3 separate regions of the Homo sapiens genome follow, and regions 1 and 2 are each linked to region 3. The links come from fine-mapping of genetic effects on plasma protein levels. A gene starts in region 3. Each other region holds a variant in brackets. All regions are shown on one strand. Distances are between the middles of the regions. Region 1 has its middle 21 kb from the start of CECR3. Region 2 overlaps ADA2 (adenosine deaminase 2). Region 3 holds the start of ADA2 (adenosine deaminase 2).

Region 1 (8,179 bases), 26 kb before region 3:
CACACTTGGCCTCAGCTTTATTTTATTTTATTTTATTTTATTTTATTTTATTTTATTTTATTTTATTTTTTGAGACGGAGTGTCGCACTGTTGCCCAGGCTGGAGTGCAGTGGTGCCATCTCGGCTCACTGCAACCTCTACCTTCCAGGTTCAAGTGATTCTCCTGCCTCAGCCTCCCAAGTAGCTGAGACTACAGGCACGCACCACCATGCCCGGCTAATTTTTGTATTTTTAATAGAGATGGGATTTCACCATATTGGCCAGGCTGGTCTTGAACTCCTGACCTTAGGTGATCCACTTGCCTCAGCCTCCCAAAGTGCTGGGATTACAAGCGTGAGCCACCCGGCCAATATTTTTATTTTTTATTGAGACAGAGTCTCAATATTTTTTGAGACGGAGTCTCACACTGTCCCCCAGGCTGGAGTGCAGTGGTGCCATCTCGGCTCACTGCAACCTCTACCTCCCGGGTTCAAGCGATTCTCCTGCCTCAACCTCCCAAGTAGCTGAGACTACAGGCACACGCCACCATGCCTGGCTAATTTTTGTATTTTTAGTAGAGATGGGATTTCACCATGTTGGCCAGGCTGGTCTTGAACTCCTAGCCTCAAGTGATCCACTTGCCTTGGCCTCCCAAAGTGCTGGGATTACAGGCGTGAGCCACTGTGCCCAGCCTAATTTTTCAGCTTTTAAAACATTTCATTTTATTTATTCAGTATTTATCTATTTAGAAACAGGGTCTTGCTCTTTTTCCCAGGCTGGAGTGCAGTTATGCAATCATGAATCACTGCAGCCTCAAACTGCTGGGCTCAAGCCATCCTCCTGCCTCAGCCTCCTTAGTAGCTGGGACTGCAGGGATTTGCCATCATGTTCAGCTTAATTTTTAAAAAATTTTTATGGAGATGAAGTCTCCTTATGTTGTCCAGGCTGGTCTGGAACTCCTGGTCTCAAGTGATCCTCCCACCTCAGACTCCCAAAGTACTGGATTATAGGGGTGAGCTACCACATCCAGCCAATTTTTCGGCTTTTTGATCTTGGACAAGTCACTTAAGATCCTGAGCCTTGGTTTCCCTACCTTTAAAATGGCACAGGCTTGGCTGGGTGTGGTGGTTTACACTTGTAATCCCAGCCCTTTGGGAGGCCGAGGCAGGCGGATCACTTGAGGTCAGGAGTTCAAGACCAGCCTGAGCAACATGGTGAAACCCTGTCTCTACTAAAAATACAAAAATTAGCCAGTCCTGGTGGCACACAACTGTAGTCCCGGCTACTTGGGAGGCTGAGGCATGAGAATTACTTGAACTCGGGAGGCAGAAGTTGCAGTGAGCCGAGATTGTGCCACTGCACTCCAGCCTGGGTGACAGAGCAAGACTCCGTCTCAAAAGGAAAAAGAAAGGCACAGGGTTGTGTTAGTGGCGAGCAATGTGTTTGCACTGCTATAGTGGAATACCTGGGTAATTTATAAAGAAAAGAGGTTCTGGCTGGGCGCGGTGGCTCACGCCTGTAATCCCAGCACTTTGGGAGGCCGGGGTGGGCAGATCACGAGGTCAAGAGATCGAGACCATCCTGCCTAACATGGTGAAACCTCGTCTCTACTAAAAATACAAAAATTAGCCGGGCGTGGTGGCGGGCGCCTGTAGTCCCAGCTACCCGGGAGGCTGAGGCAGGAGAATGGCGTGAACCCGGGAGGCAGAGCTTGCAGTGAGCCGAGACCATGCCACTGCACTCCAGCCTGGGTGACAGAGCGAGACCCCATCTCAAAAAAAAAAAAAAAAAAAAAAAAAAAAGAGGTTTTATTCGTCTCACGGTTTGAGACTGTCACAAAACAAAAAACAAAACAAAACAAAAGAAAACAAAACAATGGGAAAGCTGTGTTTTACCCTCTGCCATTCTCTTGGCTCTCCATTCATGGTCGCAGGGTGGCTGCTGCAGCGCCAATGGTTACATCCTATTGTGGCAAGAAACAAAGATGGCAAAACGGGAGGAGGATCTTTTCCAAGCTCCTCATCCCCTGCCAGCAAACGTCAGTGTCCGCTTATGCCTCTTTGAGTAGAATGGGTCATATGCCTACTCCTAAGCCAGTTACTGTCAAGGAAGCCTGGAATCCACAGAGTGAGCTATCCAATCACAAGGAAGCCTGGAATCCGCAGAGTTCTAGCCAATCACAAGGAAGCCTGGAATCCGCTAAGTTCTATCCAATCACAACGAAGCCTGGAATCCGCAGCGTTCTATCCAATCACAAGGAAACCTGGAATCCGCAGAGTGAGCTATCCAATCATAGTTCACTCCTTAGGGCTGGGTTCACCTTCCCTGAAAATATTGCCACTGTGAACAAAATAGTAAGGAACAAAGGAGGAACTGGGTGGACAACCAGCAGTGTCTCCCATAGTAACCGAAGATAGTCATTCTCTAATCAACCCTGTCAACAGCTCCCCAAAGGGCAGTGTGTCTACATGGAGCCTAGCAAAGGAAAGCCAAAAAGCCAGGCTCGAGAAATGCCCGCTTTATGTGCAGGGAGAAGTTGATGCCAAAGAGACAGCAAACTGTGAGCGTTCCTTTGCCACATCGTGTGTAAACCCTAATTGCGAAGCTTCATTACAAGACAGGTGACTTTGCTTTCAGAGAAGGTTGCCCAAGTAAAAAGAATAGCTCCTTTTTGGTGAGGATGAAGCACTTGCTTTTTTTTTTTTAGACGGAGTCTCCCTCTGTCGTCCATGCTGGAGTGCAATGGCGGGATCTCGGCTCACCGCAACCTCTGCCGCCCGGGTTCAAGCAATTCTCCTGTCTCAGCCTCCTGAGTAGCTGGGACTACAGGTGCACGCCGCCATGCCTGGCTAACTTTTGTATTTTTAGTGGAGACGGGGTTTCACCATATTGGTCAGGCTGGTCTCGAACTTCTGACTTCAGATGATCCGCCCGCCTCAGCCTCCCAATGTGCTAGGATTATAGGCGTGAGCCACTGTGCCTGGCCTAGCACTTGCTTTTGCTTTTTCTTTTTCTTTTTTTTCTTTTCTTTTTCTTTTTTTTTTTTTTTGAGACAGAGTCTAGCTCTGTCACCCAGGCCGGAGTGCAGTGGCGCCATCTCGGCTCACTATAAGCTCCGCCTCCAGGGTTCACGCCATTCTTCTTCCTTAGCCTCCCAAGTAGCTGGGACTACAGGCACCTGCCACCACTCCCGGCTAATTTTTCTGTATTTTTAGTAGAGACGGGGTTTCACCGTGTTAGCCAAGATGGTCTTGATCTCCTGACCTTGTGATCCACCCGCCTCGGCCTCCCAAAGTGGTGGGATTACAGGCGTGAGCCACGGCACCCGGCAGCACTTGCTTTTTCTAATAACAAAGTGCCGTGACTGCTCTGCCATCTGCCAAGAGCTGTGGAACCAAGGGTCTGGGCTGGAGGCTAGAAGGCCATGGTTCTGGGGACCCCACTTGCACCCTCTTACTGATTTTATGGAGTGGACCCGAGAGCACCAGCTCTGTCTAAAGGGGGCAGCTACTGGTTTTGCCTTGTATGAAGAAGAGTCCCCTTTTGCCCAATATTCTGATTTTTTTTTCTAGGAGAATTTAAAAATTTTAATACTATGTGATGTTGTCTCCTTTTTTTAAAGCTAGCAAAAAATTCAAAATAATATTTTATTTTATTTTGAGACGGGGTTTTGCTGTGTCACCCAGGCTGGAGTGCAGTGGCGTGATCTCGGCTCACTGTAATCTCAGCCTCCCGGGTTCAAGTGATTCTCCTGCCTCAGCCTCCAGAGTAGCTGGGATTACAGACATGTGCCACCACACCTGGCTAATTTTTGTATTTTTAGTAGAGATGGGGTTTCACCACGTTGGTCAGGCTGGTCTCGAACTCCCGACCTCATGTGATCCGCCTGCTTCGGCCTCCCAAAGTGCTGGGATTACAGATTTGAGCCACTCCTCCCAGCCATCAAAAGAATATTCTAAATATGGTGGACCAAGCACAACATCTGAAGGTTCTATTTTGACCTCCAGGTAGGTGTGCATGAGGGATCCTTTTGGGATACTGACAGTGTTCTATAATAAACTCTAGAAGTGATATCCCTGAAAGTATGGTCTTACTGGTAATGTTCTAAAATGTATTAAGGTAATGGCTGTGCAGTTTGGTAAATTGACTAAAATTATTGAATTGTACACTTGAAAGGGATGAATTATATATATAAAATATGCCTCAGCCAGGCGCGGTGGCTCATGCCTATAATCCCAGCACTTTGGGAGGCCGAGGCAGGCGGATCACAAGGTCAGGAGTTCGAGACCAGCCTGACCAAAATGGTGAAACCCCATCTCTACTAAAAATACAAAAATTAGCCGGGTGTGGTGGTGCGTGCCTGTAGTCCCAGCTACTCGGGAGGCTGAGGCAGGAGAATTGCTTGAACCTGGGAGGCGGAGGTTGCAGTGAGCCAAGATCGCGCCACTGCACTCCAGCCTGGGCGACAGAGCGAGACTCCATCTCAAAAAAAAAAAAAAATGCCTCAATAAAGTTGAAAAAAATTTGTCCTGCAGGCTGTAGTTTGTAGTCGAAGGCCTAGAATATTATTCCTAAGGCCTTTCTCCCTTCCTGATTGTGGTTTTGTAGAGGCACCAACCCTGCTGATAGTGAGAACTGACAACATCAGCTT[A/C]TAAGTGAGGGAGTGTGGCCCAGTGGTTCATACATGGGCCATGGAGTCACCTGAGTTCAATTCTGCTTTCCTCAACGACTAGCCATGTGACCTTGAACAAGTGATGTCCCCAGACTAGTCAGCTTTTCAGGACTCAGTTTTCTCATCTCTACAATGACAATGGTTATAATATCTGGAAGATTAAATGATGCCACACATGTAAAGCATCTGGCACAATGTAAGTCCTCAAGTAGTATTTCTCATTAGGAACTCTTGCCACTAAGCCCAGTGACCCGTTTAGTACCTGAACTAAATGAGGTGGAGCTTGCAGTGAGCCGAGGTCGCGCCACTGCACTCCAGTCTGGGCGACAGAGCTAGACTCTGTCTCAAAAAAAAAAAAGATTTTAAAAAGGTGGTGAATTCAAGTTGTGTCTTCAGAAGTTCAGATTTGGGCTCATTTTTCTTGGGTAATCTAGGAGGGTCAATTTTGCACTACCGATCTCCACTCCACCCCAACAAATGTTGCTCCTAAAATGGCCGTGGGACCTCCATTACTTTCTCAGCAAAAGTGAATTCTCGGCTGGGCGAGGTAGCCACGCCTGTAATCCCAGCACTTTGGGAGGCCAAGGCGGGTGGATCATCTGAAGGTGGGAGTTCAAGAACAGCCTGACTAACATGGAGAAACCCCGTCTCTACTAAAAGTACAAAATTAGCCCAGCATGGTGATGCATACCTATAATCCCAGCTAGTCAGGAGGCTGAGGCAGGAGAATCACTTGAACCTGGGTGTCAGAGGTTGTGTTGAGCTGAGATCGTGCCATTGCACTCCAGCCTGGGCAACAAGAGCGAAACTCCATCTCAAAAAAAAAAAAAAGAAGAAGAAGTGAATTCTCACGTACTTGTTTCAGACAGGTTTTTTTTTTTGTTGAGACGGAGTCTTGCTCTGTTGCCCAGGCTGGAGTGAAGTGGCGCGATCTCGGCTCACTGCAAGCTCCGCCTCCCGGGTTCACGCCATTCTCCTGCCTCAGCCTCCCAAGTAGCTGGGACTACAGGCGCCTGCCACCACGCCCAGCTAATTTTTTGCACTTTTAGTAGAGATGGGGTTTCACCGTGTTAGCCAGGATGGTCTCGATCTCCTGACCTCGTGATCCGCCCACCTCAGCCTCCCAAAGTGCTGGGATTACAGGTGTGAGCCACCGCGCCCGGCTCAGACAGGTTTTTAAGATACTGCTAATATAGCACTTGGAATGAAGGCACTCTGGCTGTCACTAGGGCGTGGTCAGTGCCCAGGGACTCCTGCCCATAGAGGAATGAAGCCCTACCCAGAGGCACCCTCTGCACGCCTGTGAAACCCCAGCAGGGGCTGCCACATTCCCTGGGTTATGGGTGCGGCAATGTGAACCGGGAATAAAACCTGGGGCCTTTCAGAGTGGCAGAGGAGGCTGAAAAGAGGTGGAGAGAGCCCAGCTGCACTCACGGGCCAACACAGACCCCTGGTCTAAAAGGAGTCCCCCAGAACGGGTCAGGCCAGAAATCCGTTCTAGTCCTCAGTTCCCCATGTTCTCTGTCCTCTGTGTCTCTCGCCAATTGCATAGGCTCCTCTTGTCTTTCTCTCCTTCCCTCCCCTGCCTGCATCTTCTCAACAGATGCCCTGTGCCGTCAATAAGTAGCCACGGGCCCCCCAAGCAAACAGGGGCATTCTCACCAGTATCTGAGTGCTCCCAAAGGGCTGTGGGGTCCGATCAGGTGGGAATGGGGCACAGATGGGGCTCATTCGCCTGGCCTGTTGGTTGAACTTGCCCCCTGGGGTGTGGCCATAGAGTTGTGGTGGGGAACCCCTTTTTCATGTACCCTGAGTAGGGGAAGCTGTGTGGAGAAAGTGGGGGGTAGGACTCTGCTGAGCAGGGCGAGGCCCACGGTTGTCTCATGACATTAGAAACATGAAATGAAACTCAAGGTCCTGAGTCATCCCTGTGACTGAGGCTTTTGGACTGGCTTTTTTTTTTTTTTTTTTTTGAGACGGAGTTTAGCTCTTGTTGACCATGCTAGAGTGCAATGGCGTGATCTCAGCTCATTGCAACCTCTGCCTCCTGGGTTCAAGAGATTTTCCTTCCTCAGCCTTCCTGAGTAGCTGGGATTACAGGCACGCGTCACCACGCCCGGCTAATTTTGTATTTTTAGTAGAGACAGGGTTTCTCCATGTTGGTCAGGCTGGTCTCGAACTCCCAACCTCATGTGATCCGCCCGCCTCGGCCTCCCAAAATGTTGGGATTACAGGCGTGAGCCACCGTGCCCAGCCTCGGACTGGCTTTTACCATTTTGAACAGAAAGTCTGCAGCGTGAACAATGGCTCAGGCTGATGAATGCCTCAGTCTAAGTGATTTAGCTGGTGCTGACCCGCTCCCTCATTGATCTTCCTCATTCCCAATTCCAGCAGCAATTGAAGTCTGCACCACACAATTTAGAACTCAGTTGTATATCACCTGCTGCTGTTCCTGTTGTTTCCTATGAGTTGGTCTTGCCTTTCCAGCAAGAATTACAAGCTCCTTCAGGACTGGGATCAAGTTTGTTTGATACTCCTTTAACCTCCAACGCCACTCAATAAATACCCCTTGATTAGATCAGATAATATCTGCATTGCAGTGAGCCAACTTGGCACAGAGAGGCACTCAATAAATGCTTGCATGAAGGAGTGATTTTTTCTGTTGACAAAGGACAAGACAGATCTTTCTGAAATTTTGCAGGAGGTACTTACATCTAAACTTGGTCTGCTGATTATGACAAATCTCAGCCCCCTCTTCTGAAATCACTTCCCTCAACTAGTGAAATAGGTTGGTATTAGTATTCCATACTTACAGTGTTGCTGGCTGAGTGGTGTCTCCCCCAAAATTCATGGGTTTGTTTTGTTTTGTTTTGTTTTGTTTTGAGACAGAGTCTTGCTCTGTTGCCCAGGCTGGAGTGCAGTGACACGATCATAGCTCACTGAGCCTCGACCTCCTGGGCTCAAGGGATCCTCCCATCTCAGCCTCCCAATGTGTTGGGGTTATAGTTGTGAGCCACCACTCCTGGCCCAAAACTCGTGTGTTGAAGCCTTAATGCTCAGTACCTCAAAAGGTGACTGTACTTGGAGATAGGACCTTTAAAGAGGTGATTAAATTAAAAGGAGGCCCTTAGGGTGGGCCTAATCTAATCTGACTGGCGTCCTTATAGGAACAGGAAATTCGGAGTGGGAAGAGACAGCAAGGGTCCTTGTTGGCACACTGAGGCCTCAGAAGAAACCAAGCTTGTCAACACTTTGATCTTGGACTTCCAGCCCAGGGAACTGTGAGGAAATAAGTTTCTGTTTTTTGAGTCACCAAGATTGTGATATTGTGTGATGGCAGCCTCAGCCAACTAACACAGAGAGAAGTTGAGGTCTCCAGAAGGGAAGTATCTTCTGTCATGGAGTAAGCCTCTAAGCTGTCCAGAATTCCCCCAAGGTCATGTGTCCCTAAGTGCGGGCACTCCCACAGGGGTGCCACAGTCTAGCCGTGTCCTGGATTTACTCCTTCTTGTGCTCCCTTCATACCAA
Region 2 (8,179 bases), 32 kb after region 3:
GCTTCCTTGTCACCTGCCCACTCCCAACTCTCCCCACTCTGCTCTCACTGTGTCCCCCTTGCTGTCCCTGGTGGCAGTGGCCGCCTTGCAGCTGCTGCACCTGGAGTTAGGGAAGCAGTGGGGAGGTGAGCAGGTAGTGGGGAATGACGTCATTCTCAGATCACTCTTTCTAGCTTTCATCCTCTCCCCCCGTGACCTGCTCTTCAACCATTATGCAGATGCTTAATGGGCACCTACCCTCGCGTGTGCCATGTGCTGTTTTAAGTGCAGTGACCCAGCAATGAAGGAGACAGGTGGGCATCAGCATCAGGGTTATCCCAGAGCCAGCTAGGAATTCCCCATGCAGCAGCAGAGACAATGCCCAAGGCCGTAGAGGACCTGAACAAGGGAAGCACAAGTCCAGCCTGGCTGGACTTTTGGGAACAAGGCCACTTGGCCTAATCCAAACACAAATAAAACTGTTTTGTGGGTCCCCTGACCCCATCTACTTTTCCCAGAGCTCGTTGATGGCTGGGAAGGAGTTGACTGGGAAGGAGGTGGCTGGGCAAGGGTGGCTGGGCAGGGGTGGCTGGGCAAGGGTGGCTGGGAAGGGGTGGCTGGGAAGGGGGTGGTTGGGCAGGGGTGGCTGGCCAGGGGTGGCTGGGCAGGGGTGGCTGGGAAGGGGGTGGCGTCTCTCACTGCTCACCTGACGGCTCCTGGTTGTGCTTTCTTCCCAGGTGTATGAGCTCAGTGGAGAGCACCATGACGAAGAGTGGTCAGTGAAGACTTACCAGGAAGTAGCTCAGAAGTTTGTGGAAACTCACCCTGAGTTTATTGGAATCAAAATCATTTATTCGGATCACAGGTGAGAGAGAATATTGCTGAAAAGCTCGGGTTGGGAGGCTGGGATGCAGGCAGAGCTACTAGGCTGGGAGGGGAGGGGTGAGAAGCGGGGCTGGGAGGCCGGGAGAGGCCCAGCACTGGTGCCAAGGAGCTGTGCTGTGCCTGTGTGAGAGCACAGTCCTAGGTAAGTGCGGTGACCCAACAATGAATTGCTGCCTGAAGCCACTTCTAGTTCAGGTCTTCACCCCCAAACTGAAATGAAGAATGTGTGAATTTCCCAGATAATTCTCGGCTGTGACCCCACATTGGCCTGGTGACTCATTTATGAGCATAATGGTTTTGCCTGAATGTTTGGATAATTGGCCCGTTTTTGGTTTCAATTTGCCTCTGGGTTCTGTGTGTGGTTGTGTGTGAGTCCTTGATCACGGAGACACCCTGAGTGGCACTGGCTCAAGTCTGCGTGTGGGGACCTCCAGTAGTACCATGTGCGTGGCCTGGCACGTGGGTGAAAGACCCACTCTTTTTCCCAGGGAAGCACAGAAAGCTTTGCAGCTTAATTGTCCTTCTGACTTTACCAGACAAGACCCCTCCCCTCACTTTAAAGAGCAGCCAGTCTAAGGCTGGGACCTGTCCATGGTCGCAGCTGCAAGGGCAGCAGCCAGTGGGGTCCCTCGGAGTCAGGCACGGGGCGGGCACCGAAGGGATCCGGCAGCGGCTCCCTCTGCTCAGCTCACCCACGAGCCTGGGCTCTGGAGGGCACTGACTCCCCAGGAGCCTCCTCCCATGCCCAGTCTTCCTGAGTCCCCTTCCCTTCCATGGGGCCTGGGGCCTGGAGGAGCTAAGCTCTGGCTTTGTGCCGGTCCCCCTAGGAGGGAGCTTGCAGGATGGGCCCACGTTCTGCTCAGAGGCTCCCTGGTGCCAGGTGCCCCTTCCCAGGGCCAGTGGCAGGAGGGTGTGAGGGCTGAGCTGAGTGCATCAGTGCCCCCAGGTTTGCCTAGGCTCTGGGGAGAGGCCATGGGTGGGGCAGGCCAGGAAGGCTTTATCCCCACAGAGCCGAGGATTGGAGCAGGAGAGCCAGTGGCAGGGCAAAGACCTTGAGCCTGTCGTGGGCTTGCGCCAGACCCTGTGTTTTGGGGCTTTTGTTGTCATGCTGCCTGCCTTGCCCCTGTAGGGTTCTGCAGTACCCAGGATCTTGCTGACTTAATCAGCAAGAGGCCATATGGTTACTGGGTCCAGCCGACCCATCAGGGACTTGGGTGACCTGTGGCCCTTTGCAGGTGTGCAGTGGACAGAGAGCTGCCCCTGAGCTGCATCCATGTCTACACCCCCGACAGAGATGCAGGGAGAGCTGGGAACAAGGCCACCTGGCCTCCTCTAAACGCAGACAAATAAAACTGTTCCCGTGGGTCCTCTGACCCCATCTACTTTTCAGAGACTACAGGTGCCCCCAGAGCCAGCAAGGGTCTTTGATAAGAATGGATTTGGGCTACATATCTCTCAGGGATCACAATGGCCTGGTCAGGGTGGGGTCAGGAGGGCAGGGGTGCCTCAGGTTTGGGAAACGGGACCTGCACACTTGGGGCTGGCCCAGCCCTGCACGGAGGGTGTGCTCTGGGGTTTGTGCTCTGTCGGTGCTGGGCACTGTCTCCTGGCTTCTCTGTCTGTCTCACAGATCCAAAGATGTGGCTGTCATCGCAGAATCCATCCGAATGGCCATGGGGCTCCGAATCAAGTTCCCCACGGTGGTGGCAGGGTTTGACCTGGTAACCCATGCTGTGAACAGAAGGGCTGCCTGTTAAGGGGGCATGCGAGGATGCCTGTCTGGGTGGAGCGGCAACTCCCTGGGAAGGGAGCGCAATGTGCCTGTTGGTACCCTGACATCCCAGGGCAGGCTCAGGCTGCTGACACAGCAGGGCTGCTCAGAGCTCAGCGCTGACCCTCTTCAGAGGCCTACAGGGGACGGCTGTCACTGGAGAAGGGAGAGCAGACAGCCAGTTCTAACAAGCTAACAAGGAAAGTTCCAGAATAAGGATGGCATTCAGGGAGTTTGGACCACAGTTATGGGCTCATTCCCCATGGCCCTGCCTGTGCCCTTTTTTCTATCCCACACTGCTCACCTAGGTGTGGGTCTTAAAACCCTCACCAGCCCCTGTAGCACGCGGGGTGGGGACTGGGGGGTAATGTCTGGAAACAGAGTCCAGGATGGAGCCAGGCCTTTGCAAATCCTCAAGGTAGTGATATTTGTCCCTCCCTCTCCAGCCATCATGCCTGGCCACACCAGTTTTTGAAGCTACACATTCATAGGTGTTGTCATTGTCCCACACCTCCCCACCAAATCGAAGCACAACCAGGACATTTCTTAGGTGACAGCTCGGCAATCTCATAAAGAATCTAGGCCGGGTGCAGTGGCTCATGCCCTCAGCACTTTGGGAGGGCGAGACAGGTGGATCACCTGAGGTCTGAAGTTCAAGACCAGCCTGGCCAACATGGAGAAACCGCATCTCTACTAAAAACACAAAAATTAGCCAGCCTTGGTGGCCTGCACCTGTAATCCCAGCTACTTGGGAGGCTGAGGCAGAATCACTTGAACTCAGGAGGCAGAGGTTGCAGTGAGCTGAGATTGCACCATTGCACTCCAGCCTGGGCGACAGAGCAAGACTCCATCTCAAAAAAAAAAAAAAAAAAGAATCTAGATTAGTCCAGGGCAGTGGCTCACTCCTGTAATCCCAGCACCTTGGGGGGCCAAGGTGGGAGGGTCACCTGAGTCCAGGAGTTCTAGACCAGCCTGAGCAAATCGGTGAGACCCCGTCTTTACAAAATATATATATATATATATTTTTTGCTCTTGGCCAGGCTGTAGTGCATTGGTGTGATCTCAGCTCACTGCAAGTTCTGCCTCCTGGGTTCATGCCATTCTCCTGCCTCAGCCTCCCAAGTAGCTGGGACTACAGGCACCCGCTACCACACCTGGATAATTTTTTGTATTTTTAGTAGAGATGGGGTTTCACTGTGTTAGCCAGGATGGTCTCGATCTCCTGACTTCGTGATCTGCCTGCCTCGGCCTCCCAAAGTGCTGGGATTACAGGTGTGAGCCACCACGCCTGGCCTGCTCCTGGTCATTCTTAAAAGGCTGTGTGACAAAGGTCCCGGCAGTGGTGGCAGGGTACAAGGAAGGGTGTGCACAGGCTCCAGGGCGCGCCATCAGCAAGTGAGGCATGCGCCCTGCAGACACCTCCCTGTCCCTCTCTGTCCTGCAGGTGGGGCATGAGGACACTGGCCACTCCTTGC[A/G]TGACTACAAGGAAGCTCTGATGATCCCCGCCAAGGATGGCGTTAAGCTGCCTTACTTCTTCCACGCCGGAGAAACAGGTGAGCCTGCGGGATGCGAGCAGAGGCAGCGGAGGTGGTCAATGGGAGAGCTCCTGGCCACAGGCCCATGCCTCAGGGTTAGAGCCTACAGGCGTTTCCAGAGCCCTTTCCTGTGCTCTATCTCACTTAATCCTGACAACAGCCCCATGGAGAAGGAATAACAAGGATAATAGAATCAGCCACTTTACATGTATTATTTCTAGTTTCTCTTTCTTCTTTCCTTCCTGTTTTCTTTTCTTCTTCTTCTTTTTTTTTCTTTTTTTTACGGAGTCTCCCTCTGTCGCCCAGCTCACTGCAACCTCGGCTTCCCAGGTTCAAGAGAGTCTCCTGCCTCAGCCTTCCAAGTAGCTGGTACTACAGGCACCTGCCACCACGCCTGGCTAATTTTTTGTATTTTTAGTAGAGACGGGGTTTCACCGTGTTAGCCAGGATGGTCTTGATCTCCTGACCTCATGATCTGCCCTCCTCGGCCTCCCAAAGTGCTGGAATTACAAGGGTGAGCCACTGCGCCTGGCCTTTTCTAATTGATTTCTGATTGTTTCCCCAGTTTTTAATCTCCATTTGATAGATGAAGAGCCCAAGGCTCCAAACACAGTGGTCCAGGGTTAAAGAGCTGGTGCGCAGTGGAGTCTGAATTTGAATCCTTCTTCTTCTTCTTTTTTTTTTTTTTTTTAATTTTTCGTGGTAGGGGCATAATCCTGCAAACTCACATCATCCTACTTTGGCTATAAAAATTCGTTTTAGGCTGGGCACAGGCACAGTGGCTCATGCCTGTAATCCTAGCACTTTGGAGGCTGATGTGGGTGGATCTCTTTAAACCCAGGAGTTTGAGGCCAGCCAGGGCAACATGGCAAAACTTTGTCTCTACAAAAAAATACAAAAATTAGCCAGGCATGATGGTACACACCTGTGGTCCCACCTACTTAGAGGCTGAGGTGGGAGGATTGCCTGAGCCCAGGCTCACTGAACTCCAGCCTGGGTGACAGAGCTAGACCCTGTCTCAAAAAAAAAAGTGTTTTAGCCAGGTACAGTGGCTCACATCTGTAATTCTAGCACTTAGGGAGGCAGAGGCAGGAGGATCACTTGAGCCCAGGAGTTTGAGACCAGTCTGGGCAACATAGTAAGATTCCATTCTACACAAAAAGGAAAACAAATTTTTTTTTTTTTTTTTTGAGATGGAGTCTCGCTCTGTGGCCCAGGCTGGAGTGCAGTGGTATGATCTCGGCTCACTTGCAAGCTCGGCTTCCTGGGTTCATGCCATTCTCCTGCCTCAGCCTCCCAAGTAGCTGGGACTACAGGTGCCCGCCACCACGCCCGGCTAATTTTTTGTATTTTTAGTAGAGACGAGGTTTCACTGTGTTAGCCAGGATGGTCTCGATCGCCTGACCTTGTGATCCACCCGTCTAGGCCTCCCAAAGTGCTGGGATTACAGGTGTGAGCCACTGCACCTGGTCAATTTTTTTGTTTTTTGAGATGGAGTCTCACTCTGTCACCCAGGCTGGAGTGCAGTGGTGCGATCTTGGCTCACTGCAACCTCTGCCTCCCGGGTTCAAGTGATTCTTCTGCCTCAGCCTCTGGAGAAGCTGGGATTACGGGCATGCACCACCATGCCTAGCTAATTTTTGTATTTTTAGTAGAGATGGGGTTTCACCATGTTGGTTAGGCTGGTCTTGAACTCCTGACCTCAAGTGATCCACCCACCTCAGCCTCCCAAAATGCTGGGATTACAGGCTTGAGCCACGGAAAAAAATTCTTTTGAGACAGAGTCTTACTGTATCGCCCAGGCTGGAGTGCAGTGGTGCGATCTCGGCTCACTGCAACCTCTGGCTGCCAGGTTCAAGTGATTCTCGTGCCTCAGCCTCCCGAGTAGCTGGGATTACAGGCGCCCACCAACACACCCGGCTAATTTTTGTATTTTTAATAGGGATAGGGTTTCACCATGTTGGCCCAGGCTGGTCTTGAACTCCCAACCTCAAACAATCCACCCGCCTTGGCCTCCCAAAGTGCTGGGATTACCCGGCCTCATGTGATATTTTGATGCCTGTATATAATGTGTATGAATTGGAACACTTTCTGACGCTCTCCATCCTCCGAGTGAATTGTGCTTGAGAGGTTAACTGATCTGCCTAAAGCCACACAGCTGGAAATTGGCAGAAGAGGGAGGAGAACCAGGTCTGCTCCTTGTCTTTAGGATGTTCTGTCCCGCATTATCGTAGGAGAGGAAACCCTGCCCTGCCCCATGCAGGCCCTGGCTGCTGTTCCTCCTGAAACGCCATCAGCCCAGCCACATCTTTCTTTCCCAGAACTCCATCCTTGGGCTCGCTCAGTCATCTCAGCCCCTCCCGTATTCCAGTCCTTAAAATGTGTAAACCCTAACTAAGAAAGATCACGGCTGCAATTTCAGATCCAAAGGAAGATTTGGGAGGAGGCTGTTCACATGGAGGCCGGGACCAGGAGGGCAGCTCTCTTCAGCATCCCACCTGTCACCCTCGGAAGACCAAAGAGGGGTGGAGAGAGTGGTGGGCAATTTCATTTCCCACCCAGGCTTAAGCTCTGCTCTATCACACCTTCTCTCAGAGAAAGGGACCTTGTGCATTAATCTCTTTTTCCTGACATTTCGAGTCAATTTAGATCCAATTTAGATCAAAGTCTGCTCTAGGAGAGCAGAAGAATTGTTTGAGGGGGAGGGGGTTGGGCGAGGGTGTTGTTAACCTTGAAGAGCTTGTGGTCTGGTTGGGGAAAATCATACTTATGTGTGTGAAATAATTCTGGCCCTACAAAACATTGCAGCTCAGGACCTAACAGGTTCCAAGATGTATGGTCCTTGGAGATGATTTTGCCAGGACTTGGGTATCTAATACCTAAAAGTAATGTCCTTATTTTTATTTTTTTATTTTATTTTATTTTATTTTATTTTATTTTTTGAGACGGAGTCTCGCTCTGTCCCCAGGCTGGAGTGCAGTGGCACGATCTCAACTCACTGCAAGCTCCGCCTCCCAGGTTCACGCCATTCTCCTGCCTCAGCCTCCCGAGTAGCTGGGACTACTCGGGCGCCTGCCACCACGCCCGGCTAATATTTTTTGTATTTTTAGTAGAGACGGGGTTTCACCATGTTGGTCATGCTGGTCCGGAACTCCTAACCTCGTGATCCGCCCACCTCGGCCTCCCAAAGTGGTGGGATTACAGGTGTGAGCCACCACACCCGGCCAATATCCTTATTTTTAAAAAGAAAAAGAAATCTTTAAAAACCAGTGAAAATCCACCAAAACACATGTGCTACATAGCAATGGAAATTCTTGAGTTTTATTTCTATCAGGAAAGTGGAGTTTTCATATATATATATATATATATATATTTTGACATGGGCACTCTGTCACCCAGGCTAGAGTGCGGTGGTGTGATGACAGCTCACTACAGCCTCCACCTCTGTCACCCAGGCTAGAGTGTGGTGGCGTGATCACAGCTCACTACAGCCTCCACCTCCTGGGTTCAGGTTATCCTTCCACCTCAGCCTCCTAAGTAGCTGGGACTGCAGCCACATGCCACCATGCCTGGCTAATTTTTGTATTTTTTGTAGAGACAGGGTGTCTCTATGTTGCCCATGGCTGGCCTTGAACTCCTGGGCTCAAGCAATCCTCCTGCCTCAGCCTCCCAAAGTGCTGCGATTACAGGTGTGAGCCACCGCACCCAGCCAGATGTTCATATTTTATATGTGAATCCATTAGAATGCTTATGGCTGCAAGAATAGAGTACATGCATCCCACCGATTTTACAATAAGGACATTTGTTATCTCACGTAAGAAGCAATCTGTGCTATGCCCATTGTGTGGGTGATTCTGCCCCACTTGGTTGTCGGATGGTGAATCACATTTGGGGTGACCACATCCAGTGAAGCAAAATAGGAGACAGCCTCCCAGTGGATCCCCTTTTATCAGGGAGGAATCCCCCAAAGCTCCCCAACAAATAACCTCCCAGTCCAGCGTTAAGGCTA
Region 3 (8,179 bases):
TACCCAGAATGACAAGTGAACTGCATAGGAAGGGACAGAAAAATTATATAAAAATACATACAAGCAGAGCAGTCTGAAGCCATTTAGGACAGGGGCAAACAAAGCTCCACACCTCACTGGCATTGGAAATAGAGTGATAATGCAATAGCAATAGAAAGTATTATGATAAATGCTCATAATAATGATACCAAGTCCTCAAAAAAGATCAAATTATGTTCACTGCACCCTAAGAAGCCAGAAAAAATACTAGAAAGATTTGTGCAAGGAAAATTACTTATGCTGGGCTGGGCACGGTGGCTTACACCTGTAATCCCAGCACTTTGGGAGGCCGAGGCGGGCAGATCACCTAAGGTTGGGAGTTGGAGACCAGCCTGACCAACATGGAGAAACCCCGTCTCTACTAAACAAAACAAAACAAAACAAACAAACAAACAAAAATTAGCCAGGCGTGGTGGCACATGCCTGTAATCCCAGGTACTCGGGAGGCTGAGGCAGGAGAATCACTTGAACCCGGGAGGCGGAGGTGGTGGTGAGCCGAGATCATGCCACTGCACTCCAGCCTGGGCAATAAGAGTGAAACTCCTTCTCAAAAAAAAAGAAAAATGAAAATCATTTATGCTGTGTAATTGTATAGTTGCTTTATAGTTTTAAAAATATTTTCAGCCAGGCACAGTGGCTCACGCCTGTAATGCCAGCACTTGGAAGACTGAGGCAGGTGGATCACGAGGTCAGGAGTTCAAGACCAGCCTGGCCAAGATGGTGAAACCCCGTCTCTACTAAAAATACAAAAAAAAAATTAGCCAGGCATGGTGGCAGGTGCCTGTAATCCTGGATACTCGGGAGGCTGAGGCAGAGAATTGCTTGAGACTGGGAGGCAGAGGCTGCAGACAGCCAAGATTGTGCCACTGCACTCCAGCCTAGGTGACACAGCGAGACTCTGTCTCAAAAAAAAATTTTCACATATATTATTTCATACATACACACACACAAAAAACTTACTTAGAAAAAAAAAACTTAGTAGGAGGCACATGACATTTTTTCCTTCTTGCAGATTAAAGCTTTGAGTTTTATGGATATTAGGACATTTTCTTCAAAACCACATAGCAGTTCAATGAAAGAGCTAACTTTTCTGCTTCCTAAAAATACTTTGGTGTTTCAAAACACAAGTTCCCAGTGTCTGGAAAAATCACTTATGCCTGGTAACGTCTATTCCTGGGCTCCACTTTTGCTAATTGTGTGTTCCTCCAGGGATCTGCTTCCTTGTGCCCGGTGACTCCCCCACTACTTCAAAAACCTTCCATTTTCTTGCTGCCAGGGAAAGCGGTGTGGTGGAACCCACCTGGGCCTGCAAGGCCGTGCTATGCTTGTTACTAGCTGTGTGACCTTGGGCAAGTTACCTTACTGCCAGGTGCTTCAGGGTACGCCTCTCTCAAGTGGGGATTGCAATAGTCCCTACCTTATAAGATTGCTGCAAGGATTAAATGAGTATATATACACACACACACATACACACACATATTTGTATATACTCATTTATAGGTATGTATTGCTGTAGGGATTAAATGTTATATATATATATATATATATATATATATATATATATATATATATATACACACACACATACATATATAATTCTTAATATGCCTTAGCAATTATTATTTCCATTTTCTTAACTCTGGGTCAGAGAATCTTATTTACCTCATATAACAATCATATATGCAGCACTTTAAACCACTGGTAACTCTGCTATACTCTGTTATAGGTTGTGCATAGCATATAATTCATGATATTGGTGTGAAGAAAGGGATGTTTTAATGAAAATACCTCTCAAATGTTTGTGTAGCCATAGATGATCTTTAATTCTGAAAACCTCTCCTGTCTCCAATTCTGAGGTCATAATCCACCTGTCTCTTCAGGCATCTTTCTGTTGAGGTTTAGTTTTGCAGTCACTAAAAGATGCCTTTGTCCTGTTTTTCTGCCCTGCAGATTTTCAGGTTCTGAACACAAGCCCAGTTTCTGCTTCTGATGATCATTTTCAATAGAGCATAAAAAACAGAGCCATGTTCCACGTTTTTACGGCCTCTGCACTTGGCAAAATATTCTTCCCGAATGGCCTCACGTGTGCTCCCTATCATCACGCCTTTTCAGCTAGGCAACGCTCAGAGTCACACCTGAGTGGAGGCCGACGCCCCTTTGGAGGCGACTCCAGCCATAAAAAGTCCTGCTTGGAGCTGGTTTTAGCCACAGAGGGCCAATAAATGGCCCCTTCTGAATGAGGTGCCCCTGCACCTCTGCAGAGCCTGCTGCCAGCCTCCAGGATCTAACTGGGCTCTGATTCACCGCTCCCAACCCCACATCCAGGTAAGTGTGCCCAGCTCTTGTCTCTGCTTCCACCTCAAGATCTGAGTCTCCACTCCCCAGAACCCGGCAGGTTCTGCCTGACAAGGACCTGCAGTCCTCTGCCAGCTGCCACACCCTTGCCAAGGTGTGACTTGGAGTCCTGGAGCCACCTTCGGAGATGTGAAAATTAGCTCCTACTTTTAGCTAAAGCGTTTGGAAAGAAAAGCTTGATCTTTAGCTTTGACCTGGTCTTTAAAAAAACCCTTCAAGGGGAACATCACACACCAGGGCCTGTCGGGGGGGTCGGGGCTGGGGGAGGGATAGCATTAGGAGAAATACCTAATGTAAATGATGTGTTGATGGGTGCAGCAAACCAACATGGCACAGGTATACCTATGTATCAAACCTGCACATTGTGCACATGTACCCTAGAACTTAAAGTATAAAAAAAACCCACAAAAAACCCTTCACATGATTTACTTTCAGAATTGGTGGTTTCCCTTTGTGCGGCGCTGGAATCAATCTTGTTTCTCCTTATTACTTGCGGTGCATTCTGCTTCCTCTAACTTTCAAAAAATTAGTGTTAAACTCTTTTTTTTTTTTTTGAGACAAAATCTCACTCTGTCATCCAGACTGGAGTGCAATGGTGCAATCTCAGCTCACTGCAACCTCCACCTCCAGGGTTCAAGCAATTCTCCTGCCTCAGCCTCCCAAGTAGCTGGGATTACAGGTGCGCACCACCACACCTAATTTTTGTATTTTAGTAGGGGCTGGTCTCGAACCCCTTCCATTGTGATCCACCTGCCTCGGCCTCCCAAAGTGCTGGGATTACAGGCATGCACCACTGAGCCCAGCCTAGTCTTGAACTCTTGATGAGGGAATCCCTGACCCCTCTGTGTTTTCACTTTGGGATTTCTTCCTGTTTATTAAATGAATGACCTTGGTACTTTTTGGAGAAAATGACAAAAAGGAGCATCAAGGCTCCAGATGTATGGGAGCTGCAGAACTGAAACTGCCGTGGGCTTTTGGGGGTAGATTTGGGGTCTTGGGGGTAGATTTGAGTGGGACTGGGGAGGAGTGGGGTGCAATCGAGTCTTTAGACCATGCATGTGACATGGAGGTCCCTGGTGTAGCCTCCCATGTCTGCATTTCTAATTGGCTTGGATGAGGCATCCCAATAGTTACTTCTAAGAATAGTCATGGCTAATATTTATCAAGAGCTTTCTATGTGGCAGGTACTTTGCATGTGTTTTTCCTTTAATTCTGACAATGGACCCTCTGTGGTGGGTGCTTTTATTATCCACATTTTCAGATGAGGAAACTGAAGTATAGAGAGTTGAAACAACTTGGTCGAGGCCCCACTGCTACAGTGCTAAGGCCAGCTACAAAGCGAGGTCTGACTCTGACCGTCCTGGGTACAGGAGCCTTGTCTGCTCCACTTGTCCCTTGGAGCGTTGTTCTTGCTGGTCCTCTTCACACCCCAGCTCTTGTCTCCTACCTCCTGCCCCCTCTACTGTCCTGTCCCCGCATCCCTGATTTCCCCCCTAAAACATATATTTTATTATAGCTACTTTTTACTCTCTGTCTAATGGGTTGCCCCACAGTCCACAATCACATTTTGAGGAAGGAGAACTTCCCAGAGTTCATGAACAGATTTTGGAGTGCCTCTTTGCGGTGCTTGTTTCCAAAACCAACATGCTGTGGACCTTTCAAAGACACAGTACACACAAACACACACACACCCTCCCTCCAACACAAATAAACCCACATGCGGCCGGGCATGGTGGCTCACGCCTGTAATTCCAGCACTTTGGGAGGCCGAGGTGGGCGGATCACCTGAGGTCAGGAGTTCGAGAGCAGCCTGACCAACATGGTGAAACCCCATTTCTACTAAAAATACAAAAAATCAGTGGGGCATGGTGGCGCACGCCTGCAATCCCAGCTACTCGGGAGGCTGAGGCAGGAGAACTGCTTGAACCCGGGAGGCGGAGGCTGCAGTGAGCTGAGATTGCGCCATTGCACTCCAGCTTGGGCAACAAGAGTGAAACTCTGTCTACAAAAAAAAAAAAAAAAAAAAAAAAACAAACCCCACATGCACATAAACCGAAACACACACGAACACACAAACACCCACATGAACATGCGCACAAGCCCCCCACATCAAACTCAGATGCACACAGCAAGCATGCATGTAAGCCACACACTTGCCACTCTGGCTGCCTCAGCACTGCAGAGCCCCTCTCCCCGGCCTCTAGTTGGATCCCTGGTGCACACTGGAGGGAAATAAAACCTACCCCAACAGGAAGTGAAACAGTTGGTGAGCTTTTCCGGTGCTCTGCACAGATGCTGGGGCGCTGAGCAAACAGCCCTCAGTTTCTGGAGCTGTTCCGAGGTAACTGGGGTCCTTTGGGAGCTGTGGGATGATGAGGTTCAGGAGGTAGCTGGGAAGTCCGGAGCTTGGGCTTGATCCACCTGCACCTCTCCCTGTCTCCATCTGAGCTGGGTCTGAGACTCTCAGTGGAGGAGTAACAGGCTTTCTCCCAACAGGCTTTTGAAAATGGGCCCAAGGGCATTTACTCAGGACCACAGATGCATGTGGCCTACTCCACTGTCACCAGGCTGGAGTGTGGTGGCACGATCTCGGCTCTCTGCAACTTCTGCCTCTCGAGTTCAAGCCATTCTTGTGCCTCAGCCTCCCTAATAGCTGTGATTACAGGCACCCACCACCACGCCCGGCTAATTTTTGTATTTTTAGTAGAGACGGGGTTTCACCGTGTTGGCCAGGCTGGTCTTGAACGACTGACGTCAGGTGATCTGCCTGCCTCGGCCTTCCAAAGGGCTGGGATCACAGGCAGAGCCACCACACCCAGCCTCCTTTCTTCTTAGTCTGGAAGCAAACTACTTTATGAAGTTTTCATGCATCCTCTTTTAAAAGTAAAAGGAAAATCTTGTGGAGGAGAGAAGATGAAGTAGATATAGCAATAAATTGTGAATAAGGATTGTTTTTACTAGTATTCAACCAGGCAGGTCTTGACCACCATTAGATAAACTTCTGTCTGGCAGCCTGGAAAAGTTCACAGTTGCTGGGACACAAATGCTTTTGGGGTCCTTCTTGGAGAGGATGGAGTTGAAGATTTGGGAGCTTGATGGCCTTTGTTATGTGTCACCAGGGAGACAGGGACAAGGGGCGGGGCTGTTGATGGAGAATGTGGCATGGGGTAGGTGGGATGGTGACATAGAAGTCACCGTGCTCCTGCCCTAGAGATTTTAGTAGCAGGCAAACACCGTGGTCAAAAAAGAGAGTCAAGGACTTAATGAAGTTAAAGGGGTTCTGCTGACGTCCAGCACTCTGATTTTGGGGGTACAGCTTCTGCCATAACTGCATATTGCTGATACTAGTTCCTTCTTAAAATTTTCTTTGCTATCTGATGTACTACAGAATAACTGAGCTGGGAAGAATCTTGGATATTAAAATGATTTAATGAGTAGCAAACTTTCCATTTTTGTCATATCCTTGCACCTCTATTTACTTAATATTTTTCTTTAACTTAAAAATTTTTCAACAAAAACAATAATAGTTACGATATCATGGGTTTGATGTGCTAATACATGTTTTAAAATTACCTATCTGTCAACATAACCCCTATCCATTTGTGAGCCACCTAAGATTGTATTTATGCCACTGATGATATTCATGCTGCACTTGGAAAACCACTGATCTTGTCCAAGTTACCTTTTTTGTAGGTGAGGACACTGAGATCTGGAGACGTTAGTGATTTGCCCAAGGTTGCACAGTTAGAATGATACTAATTTGAGGCTGTTCCTAAGGTCTCCTAATTTACAGTCTTGACATGTTCCAGTATGCTGTATCATACTTTCAAGTGTAGAGAAACAATCGTTTTATTTTCATTTTAAAAATTTTATTTACGTATTTATTTTTGAGACAGAGTCTTGCTCTGTCACCCAGGCTGGAGTGCAGTGGTGCAATCTAGGCTCACTGAAACCTCCGCCTCCCAGGTTCAAGAACTTCTCATGCCTCAGCCTCATGAATAGCTGGGACTACAGGTTCAATACACCACGCCTGGCTAATTTTTGTATTTTGGTTTTGCTATGTTGCCCAGGCTGGTATCGAACTCCTGGGCACCAGTGATCTGCCCACCTCAGCCTCCCAAAGTGCTGGGATTATAGGCATGAGCCACTGCCCCTTCTTAAATGTAATTCAAATAGATAACCCAGGTAAAGGAGCAGCATAGAGCCTTGTGTGAGGAGATGCTGAATACATTTCCTTCCTTCAGTCCCTGCTCGTTGCCACCCTGAACTGGCTGCTCTCTGCAAGTTTTGATAATCCTTTCTAATGCTAATGCTCTGAAATACCAAGATGCTGTACCTTGGTGTGGCCACAGAATGATTGACTGTGCTGTGCAAGGTACTCAATCTAAAGACTGTCAGTTCTGGGGCAATTTCTTGTATTCCTTATTGGCTTATTTCCTTCACCTGTTTTTTTTTTCTTTTTCCTTCTGAAATGTCTGTTATTTGGGTGTTGGATTTCTTCAACCAATAATCATCTCATTTTCTTTTCTCCTATTTTGCTTTACTTTTAAAAATATTTTCTTTAACTTCATTTTTAATATTGCTAGTAAATTTTTAAACATTCGGCTTTGCTGTTTTTAATTTCTGAAAGTTCTTTCTAATTCTCATTTTTTTAATCACCTCCTGTTCCTGTTTTACACACACAATGTTTTATGTCTTTAAGGATGTTAATTACAGTTCTTTCAGGTTTTTCTTTTATTTCCTGTGTTGCTTTGTTTCCTCTCAGTTCCTTATCTCTGTGTGTTTTGTTTTGGTTTCTTTCTCAGTTTGAAGCATGTCTTATGATCTTGTGCTCTGGTTATATTTGTTATTTATTTATTTATTTTAACTTTAATCCATTTTATTTGAGTCTCTCTCTCTATATATATGTGTGTGTGTGTGTGTGTTTTTTTTTTTTTTGAGGTGGAGTCTTGCTCTGTTGCCGGGCTGGAGTGCAGTGGCACGAACTCGGCTCACTGCAACCTCTGCCCTCTGGGTTCAAGCAAGTTTCCTGCCTCAGCCTCCCAAGTAGCTGGGATTACAGGCACACGCCACATGGCTAGTTTTTGTATTTTTAGTAGAGACAGGGTTTTGCCATGTTGGCCAGGCTGGTCTTGAACTCCTGACCTTGTGATCCACCTGCCTCGGCCTCCCTAAGTGCTGGGATTACAGGCATGAGCCACCATGCCCGGTCTTAGTTACTCTGAAATATACATAATATTATTGCTAAGTATAGTCACCCTAGTCTACTATGAAACATTAGAACTTATTTCTTCTATCTAACTGTAGGTTTTTTTTTTTCCTGGGAGTGGGGCAGATAGGGTTTCACTCTGTCACCCAGGCAGGAGTGCAATGGCACCATCATGGCTCACTGCAGCCTTGACCTCCCAGACTCAAGTGATCCTCCCACCTCAGCCTGCTGAGTAGCTGGGAGTACAGGTGTGTACCACTACACATGGATAATTTTTATTATTATATTTATTTATTTATTTTGAGATGAAGTCTTGCTTCTTCCCCAGGCTGGAGTGCAGTGGTGCGATATCGGCTCACTGCAACCTCCGCCTCTCAGGTTCAAGCGATTCTCCTGCCTCAGCCTCCTGTGTAGTTGGGATTACAGGTGCACGCCACCACGCCTGACTAATTTTTGTATTTTTAGTAGAGATGGGGTTTCACCATGTTGGTCAGGCTGGTCTCGAACTCCTGACCTCGTGATCTGCCTGCCGATAATTTTTAAATTTTTTGTAGAGATGGGGGTCTCGCTTTGTTG

The links. PIP is the posterior inclusion probability: the model's chance that the variant is causal. The UK Biobank Pharma Proteomics Project read protein levels with antibody pairs (Olink). The fine-mapping took linkage between variants from a reference panel, not from the people measured, so its PIPs are less certain.
Region 1: its variant is fine-mapped to the plasma level of the ADA2 protein (UK Biobank, PIP above 0.99).
Region 2: its variant is fine-mapped to the plasma level of the ADA2 protein (UK Biobank, PIP above 0.99). The variant lies in the coding sequence of ADA2. If it changes the protein, the assay may bind it differently, which can mimic a change of level.

What each region holds. Positions count from the first base shown.
Region 1 is chr22:17,242,031-17,250,209 of GRCh38, reverse strand. No RefSeq gene overlaps it. Among named protein-coding and RNA genes, the nearest start is that of CECR3, 21 kb to the left of the region's middle. RefSeq lists enhancers at 6,382-6,641, 6,662-6,721. The variant A/C (reference allele first, on the strand shown) is at 4,631.
Region 2 is chr22:17,184,348-17,192,526 of GRCh38, reverse strand. It overlaps ADA2 (adenosine deaminase 2), which reads left to right. Exons shown (of 10, transcript NM_001282225.2): 5 at 717-844; 6 at 2,495-2,585; 7 at 4,080-4,188. Among named protein-coding and RNA genes, the nearest start is that of HDHD5-AS1, 29 kb to the right of the region's middle. RefSeq lists enhancers at 2,192-2,692, 3,581-4,080, 4,081-4,582. The variant A/G (reference allele first, on the strand shown) is at 4,111.
Region 3 is chr22:17,215,912-17,224,090 of GRCh38, reverse strand. It overlaps ADA2 (adenosine deaminase 2), which reads left to right and starts at 4,656. Exons shown (of 10, transcript NM_001282225.2): 1 at 4,656-4,735. RefSeq lists enhancers at 4,869-4,998, 5,009-5,078, 4,919-5,279.